Linked DNA regions of Homo sapiens. The protein of the gene in region 1 purifies or fractionates together with the protein of each later gene. This does not show direct contact. Each region holds a gene or a part of one and is shown on either strand. Other genes may lie near its edges.

Region 1 (3,653 bases):
ATAGACAAAAGGATGAAAAACACAGAAGAGAGTATAGAGATATGAAAGATAGAGCAGGGTCTAACATACATTTAATTGGAATTCTAGAAGGTGAGGAGAGAATGAAGGAGAATCAATATTTTAGAAGAATGGCTGAGAAGTTTCAAAACTGATTAAAGATATCTACCCACAGATTCAGGAATCTTAACGGAATCCCAATCAGGACAAACAATAGGAACCCATCATTAAGACACAGCAGATTGAAGCTAAACAAAATCAAAGACAAAGAGAAAACTTTTACATGCAGCCAGAAGAATAAGACAGGTTACTTATAAAAGAGCTGCAGTTAGACTGGCAACTGACTTTTTAATGATGACACTGGAAGATGGAATGATATATTCAATATACTGAAATGACCACCCAGCAAAAGCACCCTTCAACAATGAAGGCAAAAGCATGACATTTTCAGACAAACAATAACTGAGAGAGTTTACTACCAATAGACCATCATCAAAAGAAATCCCAAAGGATGCATGATCATTTAGGAAAATTACCCCAGATGGAATGTTAGAGGTGTAAGACAGAATGAATAGTGAAGAAAGTGGTAAATCTGTGAGCAGATTAACTAAACATTTGGCTATAAAACAATAATACTTCGAGGCACTTGAAAATATAAACAGACTTGAAATATACAAGAAATGTAGCATATAAGTTGGAGGTGGTGATGATGGTGGTTAGTGGAGTTAAATTATTGTTAATCTTGTCTTGTTTTAAAGGAGAACAGCATCAAGAAAGAAAGAAAAAGACAATTCTTGGCTGTGCAGGACTCTCTTGATCATTGTACAATAACTAGCATTCTTGTCTTCTTTCCACTAAATATAAGTAGCACCCATGTCCTCCCATCACCATGGTTACCAAAAACACCCTCATTAATTTTCAATATGTCCCTGGGGGCAGTGCTGCTTTTGTCAGGAACTGCTTTTGTAAATTCTACAATGCTCAGGCTCCATGATTACAATTCATAGAACAGCAAACACTTAGAAGTCTGGCAACTAAATGATTGTCTTTTTTTTACCTAGAGGTGTTACTTTTAAATTGGAAAGTTTATTCCTGATTATTTTCATTCATTCGTTCATTCAAGAAATATACATTGAATGCCTATTATTATCAGGCAAACTCTTAAGTCAATAGACCCAAATTCGAGTTTTTGTTTGTTTGTTTGTTTGTTTGTTTGAGAGAAGATCTTGCTCTGTCTCACAGGCTGGAGGGCAGTAGTGCAATCCTGACTTACTGCAACCTCCTCCTCCCAGGCTCAAGCGATCCTCCCACCTCAGCCTACCCAGTAGCTGGGGCTACAGGTGCTCACCATCACACCTGGCTAAATTTTTAGTTTATTTTGTAGAGACGAGGTTTTGCCATGTTGCTCAGGCTAGTCTTGAACTCCTGGGCTCAAGCAATCTACCTGCCTTGGCTTCCCAAAGTGCTGGGATTACTGGTGTGAGCTACCGCGCCCAGCCAAATTCAAATTTTACTTCTGCTACTTATTGGCCGAATGAGCCATGTGACCCAGGAGTTTCTCTTTTTGACCCAAGTTTCTCTTGGTGTAAAATGGATTTAATAATAATGCCTAACCTTATCTAACTTACAGAATCACTGTTAAAATTGACTAAGATGCAGGGCATTTAAAAGTGAACAGAAAATTGTATCACATCCACAAAACATAGATAAGCTAAGCACATACTACATGTTAGCTTTTATTATGTGTACTCCTATGGTGGCTAAAATATGCTACATTTATCAGGACCAACTATATGCCGTGTTACTCTAGCTATGGCATGCTACTCGTTGCAGATAAGAAAGCAGAAAGAACAGAAAGGTTAAGTTGCTTACTTAAGGCCAGCCAGCCAGTAAGTGGGAGGAAAGGGCATCTGAACATATATTTGTTTGAAACTCTTGTTTTAACTTATCCACCTTCTGAAGAGTGTGGTTGACTCTCTCTCTGTGTGTGTGTGCGTGCGTGTGTGTATGTAGCATTGATTCATTTATTCAACAGTTATTTACACCTATTATGCACCAGGCTCTGTTTTAAGTTCTGGGGATACAGCAGTGAACAGAACACCAAAATCCCTTCCTTTCTCTCTTCCTTCCCTTTCATTCTCCCTTCTGTTGCAGGCTCCTCTCTCCACCTCTTTTTCCTTTCTCTCCTTTTTCCATCCCTCTATTTCCCTCCACCACTCCCCCTCCTCTTCCCTTCACTCCCTTCTTTCTCTCCTCCCCCCACCCCTCCTCTGCTCCCAGTCGAGACAGGACCCACCAGGCCTGGTGGGAGGGCCATACATTTTGGTACCAGTGCTTGACTAGGCGGATGAGGCTCTTGAGCTTGGTGGGGCGCTGCTTCAGGAAGTCTCTCTGTAGTTCTGTGAAGCAGGTGGAGAACTCGCCCTCTTTCTGCAGGTCGGTGCACTCCTCGATGAGCTTGACATAGATTTGGGGGTTAGGTTTATAGCCGCCAGTCAACTGACCTGTTCGGGCAAAATCTACAACTTAGGTGTCAGCTCTTCTCTGAATTTCCTTCAGTCACTCTGAGGGGACAATCTCCCTGGCCATGGGGTTTGATTGAAAAGTGCAGCAGACCCAGGGCTGGGAAGTCTTGAGGTCCATTCCTGATCCTCCCTCCTGCCCTCTCCACTGCCATCACCCCATCCAAGCCACCACCGTCACTCGCCGGAACTATGGCAGCAACCTCTTTACAGGTTCCCCCACAGCCTGTTCTCAACCTGGCACCTAGAGAATGCTGCTGATCATGCTGCTTCCTGCATCCCATAACATCTGGAATTTTAAAACCCAAAGATCTTATGGTGGCCAATGATGTCTGGTGTGATCTGGTCTCTGGAACCTCTCCCACCTCACCTCCTGTCTTGCTTCCTTTGCCCACTTTCTACTTCTCTGACTTTTTCTCTCTTCCTCAAATGTGCCATGGTCATTGCTGCTTCAGGGCCTCTGCACTTGCCATTCCTCTTCCCAGAACCTCCAGATCTCCCCAAGGCTCACTCCTTCTCGCCACTCAGGCTCAGGGACCCTCCCTCACGACCCTGTCTAAAAAAGCTCCCTAACCCCCATGGCTATCTATTGTTTCACCCTACTTAGTTTTCTTTTCTTTTCTTTTTTAATCACTCCTTATATTCTTTTCTTTTTTCTTTTTTTCGAGATGGAGTCTCACTCTGTTGCCCAGGCTGGAGTGCAATGGCATGATCTTGGCTCATTGCAACCTCCATCTCCTGGGTTCAAGCAATTCTCCTGCCTCAGCCTCCCGAGTAGCTGTGATTACAGGCACACACCACCACGCCCAGCTAATTTTTGTATTTTTAGTAGATGTGAGATTTCACCATGTTGGCCAGGCTGGTCTTGAATTCCTGACTTCAAGTGATCCCCCCACTTTGGCCTCCCAAAGTGCTGAGATTACAGGCGTGAGCCACTGTGACCAGCCTTCTCCCTCTTGTCTTTTACAACCATTGTACTTCAGCCCCCAACACAGGAGATGGCACAAAGGAGAGAATCCAAAACTTTCTCATACCCTGGTGTCTTTGGAGAGTCAGCATTTTTTTTTTCATGGCTGCCCTAGGACTAAAGGAAACTGTGACAGTTCCTTTAATTAAGTCCTAATTACTTGATAA
Region 2 (3,653 bases), on another chromosome or scaffold:
GGGGAGAAATTAAAAATCATTTTTACAAGTTGATACTTACCTGAAATAGTTACATTCTACAGCTTTTTTTTTTTTTTTGAGACGGAGTTTCACTCTTGTTGCCCAGGCTGGAGTGCAATGGCGTGATCTTGGCTCACTGCAACCTCTGCCTCCTGGGTTCAAGCAATTCTCCTGCCTCAGCCTCCCGAGTAGCTGGGATTACAGGCATGTGCTACCATGCCTGGCTAATTTTGTATTTTTAGTAGAGATGGGGTTTCTCCATGTTGGTCAGGCTGATCTCAAACTCCCAACCTCAGGTGATCCACCCACCTCGGCCTCCCAAAGTGCTGGGATTACAGGCATGAGCCACCACACCCAGCCCAGGCCTTACTTTCAAAACAACTGTTTACCATGCCTCACAAGACCCTTACGTTGACTTCCACTACTCTTTCAACTCTGCCCGCCTCCCTCATCTCCAAAGGATCCATTCAAAGACTTCTACTTCTAGATCTTCACATACTCTTTTCGTTGGTTTGGGAACACTTTTCACTCTAATCCAACCCCTCTGTATGGTGAATGTCCCTTTTTTTTTTTTTGAGACACTGGAGTGCAGTGGCACTATCTCAGCTCACTGCAACCTCTGACTCCCTGGTTCAAGCGATTCTCCTGCCTCAGCCTCCCAAGTAGCTGGGATTACAGGCATGTGCCACCACACCCAGCTAATTTTTGTATTTTAGTAGAGATGGGGTTTCACCATGTTGGCCAGGCTGGTCTTGAATTCCTGACCTCGTGATCCACCCACCTCAGCCTCTCAAAATGCTGGGATTAGAGGCCTGAGCCACCACGCCCAGCTATGAATGCCTATTTTCATCCTTGAGGTTTCAATTTTATATGTCACATTCTCAAATCCTTCTCTGACCTAAGTCTGAGTAGGTACACTGCAATACACTCCCATATGCATGACATGTACTGTATACCATAATGCTATATACTCCCACATACACGATGTTTATTGGGTCATAGACTGCAAGCTTCATGAAAGCAGGACTGTAAGTTTTCTACCTTAAATCTGTGTCTTATAGTATAAGGCTTCTCAACATCAACAACACCGACATTTTACACCAGACAATTTTTTTGTTGTGGGGGCTGTCCTGTGTGCTGTGGAATATTAAGCAGCATCCCTGGCCTCCATTCACTAGATGCCAGTGGCACCCCCTCAGCTATGACACCAAAAATGTCACCAGACATTTTTACACCCCTCTACTCTAGTCCAATTTACCACTACCATGCATTAATGCATAATTTCTAATCGGTATTTTGGCTTCTCTTGTCCCTTTTATACAATCTCTTCTCCATACAGCAACTAAGAGAGATCCTTTGGAAAAAAGAACAAATCACTCTTGTACTCAAAATCTTCCAATGAATTCCCACAAGTCAAAGTCCAAAGTCCTCACATGATATGCCTCCTACAAACCTCTTAATTTTCCTCTAGTTTTCTACTGGCTTATTCTAACCCAGCTGCACTCACTAAGAACATTCCCTCCTAGTCTTTGCTGTTGTCATTGCCTGGAATGTTCTTCCCTCAGATATTCTCTCTCCAAGCACGGCTGCTCAAACATCCTTCCTCACAGAGACATTTCTAACCAATATTCCTTGTTGCTCTCTACTTACTCTATTTTATTTCTCTATTAAAAAAAAATAGGTTTTTACTAGAATACAAATTCTATGAGATTTCTTTTTCTGCTATATCCTCAGTGACACATGTTCAATAAACACTGAGTAAACCTGTATGTAGAAAGCAATCATTAAATATATAATTCATCAATTCAGGTGAACTACTATTCCCTGTTTATTTTAATATTATTCCTTTCCCACCTGACCAGTCATCATTAAAAGCATACACACAGATTTACCAAGTACACCAGAATGTATTTACCACAAAATTTAATGTCATATTACATGATTTAAAACCCCAGAAGAAACATAATGCTCCTGAAGAACACTGCTTTACAAATAAAAAGTTACTTTTTTTTTTTTCTTAAAGACATGTTCTTACTCTGTGGCCCAGGCTGGAGTGCAGTGGTGCCATCATAGCTCACTGTAACACCAAACTCCTGGACTCAAGTGATCCTCCTGCTTCAGTCTTCAAGTAGCTGGAACTACAGGTGTGCACCACCATGCTCAGCTAATCTTTAAAACTTTTTTGTAGCTCTATGATGCCGAGGCTGGTCTTGAACTCCTAGTCTCAAGCAATCCTTCTGCCTCGGCATCCCAAGAATTATAGGTGTAAGCTACTGTGAAGTTACATTTTAAGTACCAACTTAAATTGATTTGTAGTGGCTGCCTAGCTAACAATTTTGTCTCCTGATTAATAATAACTATTTGCTACAGGCCCTAGAGATCATATTACATATTTGTTATCTCTCCTATATAATATATACTTTAGAAAGTTACTAACTATGCAGAAGAAAATTAATATTAAATTATTAACTCATGTTAAACTGAATTGACCACACCTTTAAGAAATTAAAATGTGGCTATTACAGAAGTTAAGAGTTCATATAAAGTTACAGTTTGCTGAGGACTTACGTGCTAGGCACCATAATAGGTGCTTAACAAACATAATTCTCATTTATTTTGACAAAAACTCTTTGCTTGGACCAAACCTTCAGCAAGACTCTTGAGTTCTTTCTGACTAGGAGAACTTTAGGCTCCCTCTCTGTCCTTGTAGAAACCAGGCTGAATGAGAATCCTGCTCAGTCAGTTTACTGAAAACCCCCACACACTTGATATAGGACCACTCTGGATATTTTAGCCTGGCCTGCCATGCTATCAAGTCAGTTTAGCCAGAAACCCCTTATGTTGATGCTTCCTCTTAGTAATAATTTTCCATCCACTGACACTCCCTTCAAGCACTCAGCTCCTTAGTTATAAATTCCACTTATCTTTATGGGACCCCAAGTTGAGTTTAATTTCTTTCTGCCACTGCAAGATTCTATCATAGTGGTCCCTATATCTACTGCCATGCCCCCCCCACCCCCGAAAAAATATCTGCCTTACCATCTTTAACAAGTGTCATCAATAAGCTTTTTTTGTAACAATTTATTTAAGAAAAAAAAAAACTCTATGGGGTCGGGCGCAGTGGCTCACGCCTGTAATCCCAGCACTTTGGGAGGCCGAGGCGGGCAGATCACGAGGTCACGAGATTGAGCTAATACAGTGAAACCCCATCTCTACTAAAAATACAAAAAATTAGCCAGGCATGGTGGCGGGCATCTGTAGTCCCAGCTACTTCGGAGGCTGAGGCAGAAGAATGGTGTGAACCCGGGCAGCTAAGCTTGCAGTGAGCCGAGATCGCGCCACTGCATTCCAGCCTGGGTGACAGTGCGAGACTCTGTCTCAAAAAACAAAAAACTCTATGGTTGGTGTTTTTATCTTTAGTTTCCAATAAAGAAACTGGTGCCTTGAGGGGTTAAGCAAGTTGGATAAGTTCACATAACAGCCAGCTGACCAAACTAGAGAGCTCTTCCTAAAATAAAAACTACCCAGTTTCTTTATGAATGAGGAAGAAGGAAACTAAGAGAATTCCTCCCACCTTCTGATAAACTATAGTCAGCAATCTGCAACCCCAATATACTACAATTTATCATTAAATATTAACTCCTATAAAAACA

What was found. The genes of interacting proteins can lie anywhere in the genome.
Region 2: the proteins of OAS1 (region 1) and PPM1B purify together in Homo sapiens (co-immunoprecipitation; one large-scale study listed by IntAct). This does not show direct contact.

The regions. Positions count from the first base shown.
Region 1 is NC_000012.12:112,909,899-112,913,551, reverse strand, and holds part of OAS1 (2'-5'-oligoadenylate synthase 1), read right to left. Parts: intron 2,502-3,653; coding exon 2,317-2,501; coding exon of another isoform or gene 2,294-2,316; intron 1-2,293.
Region 2 is NC_000002.12:44,213,825-44,217,477, reverse strand, and holds part of PPM1B (protein phosphatase 1B), read right to left. Parts: intron 1-3,653.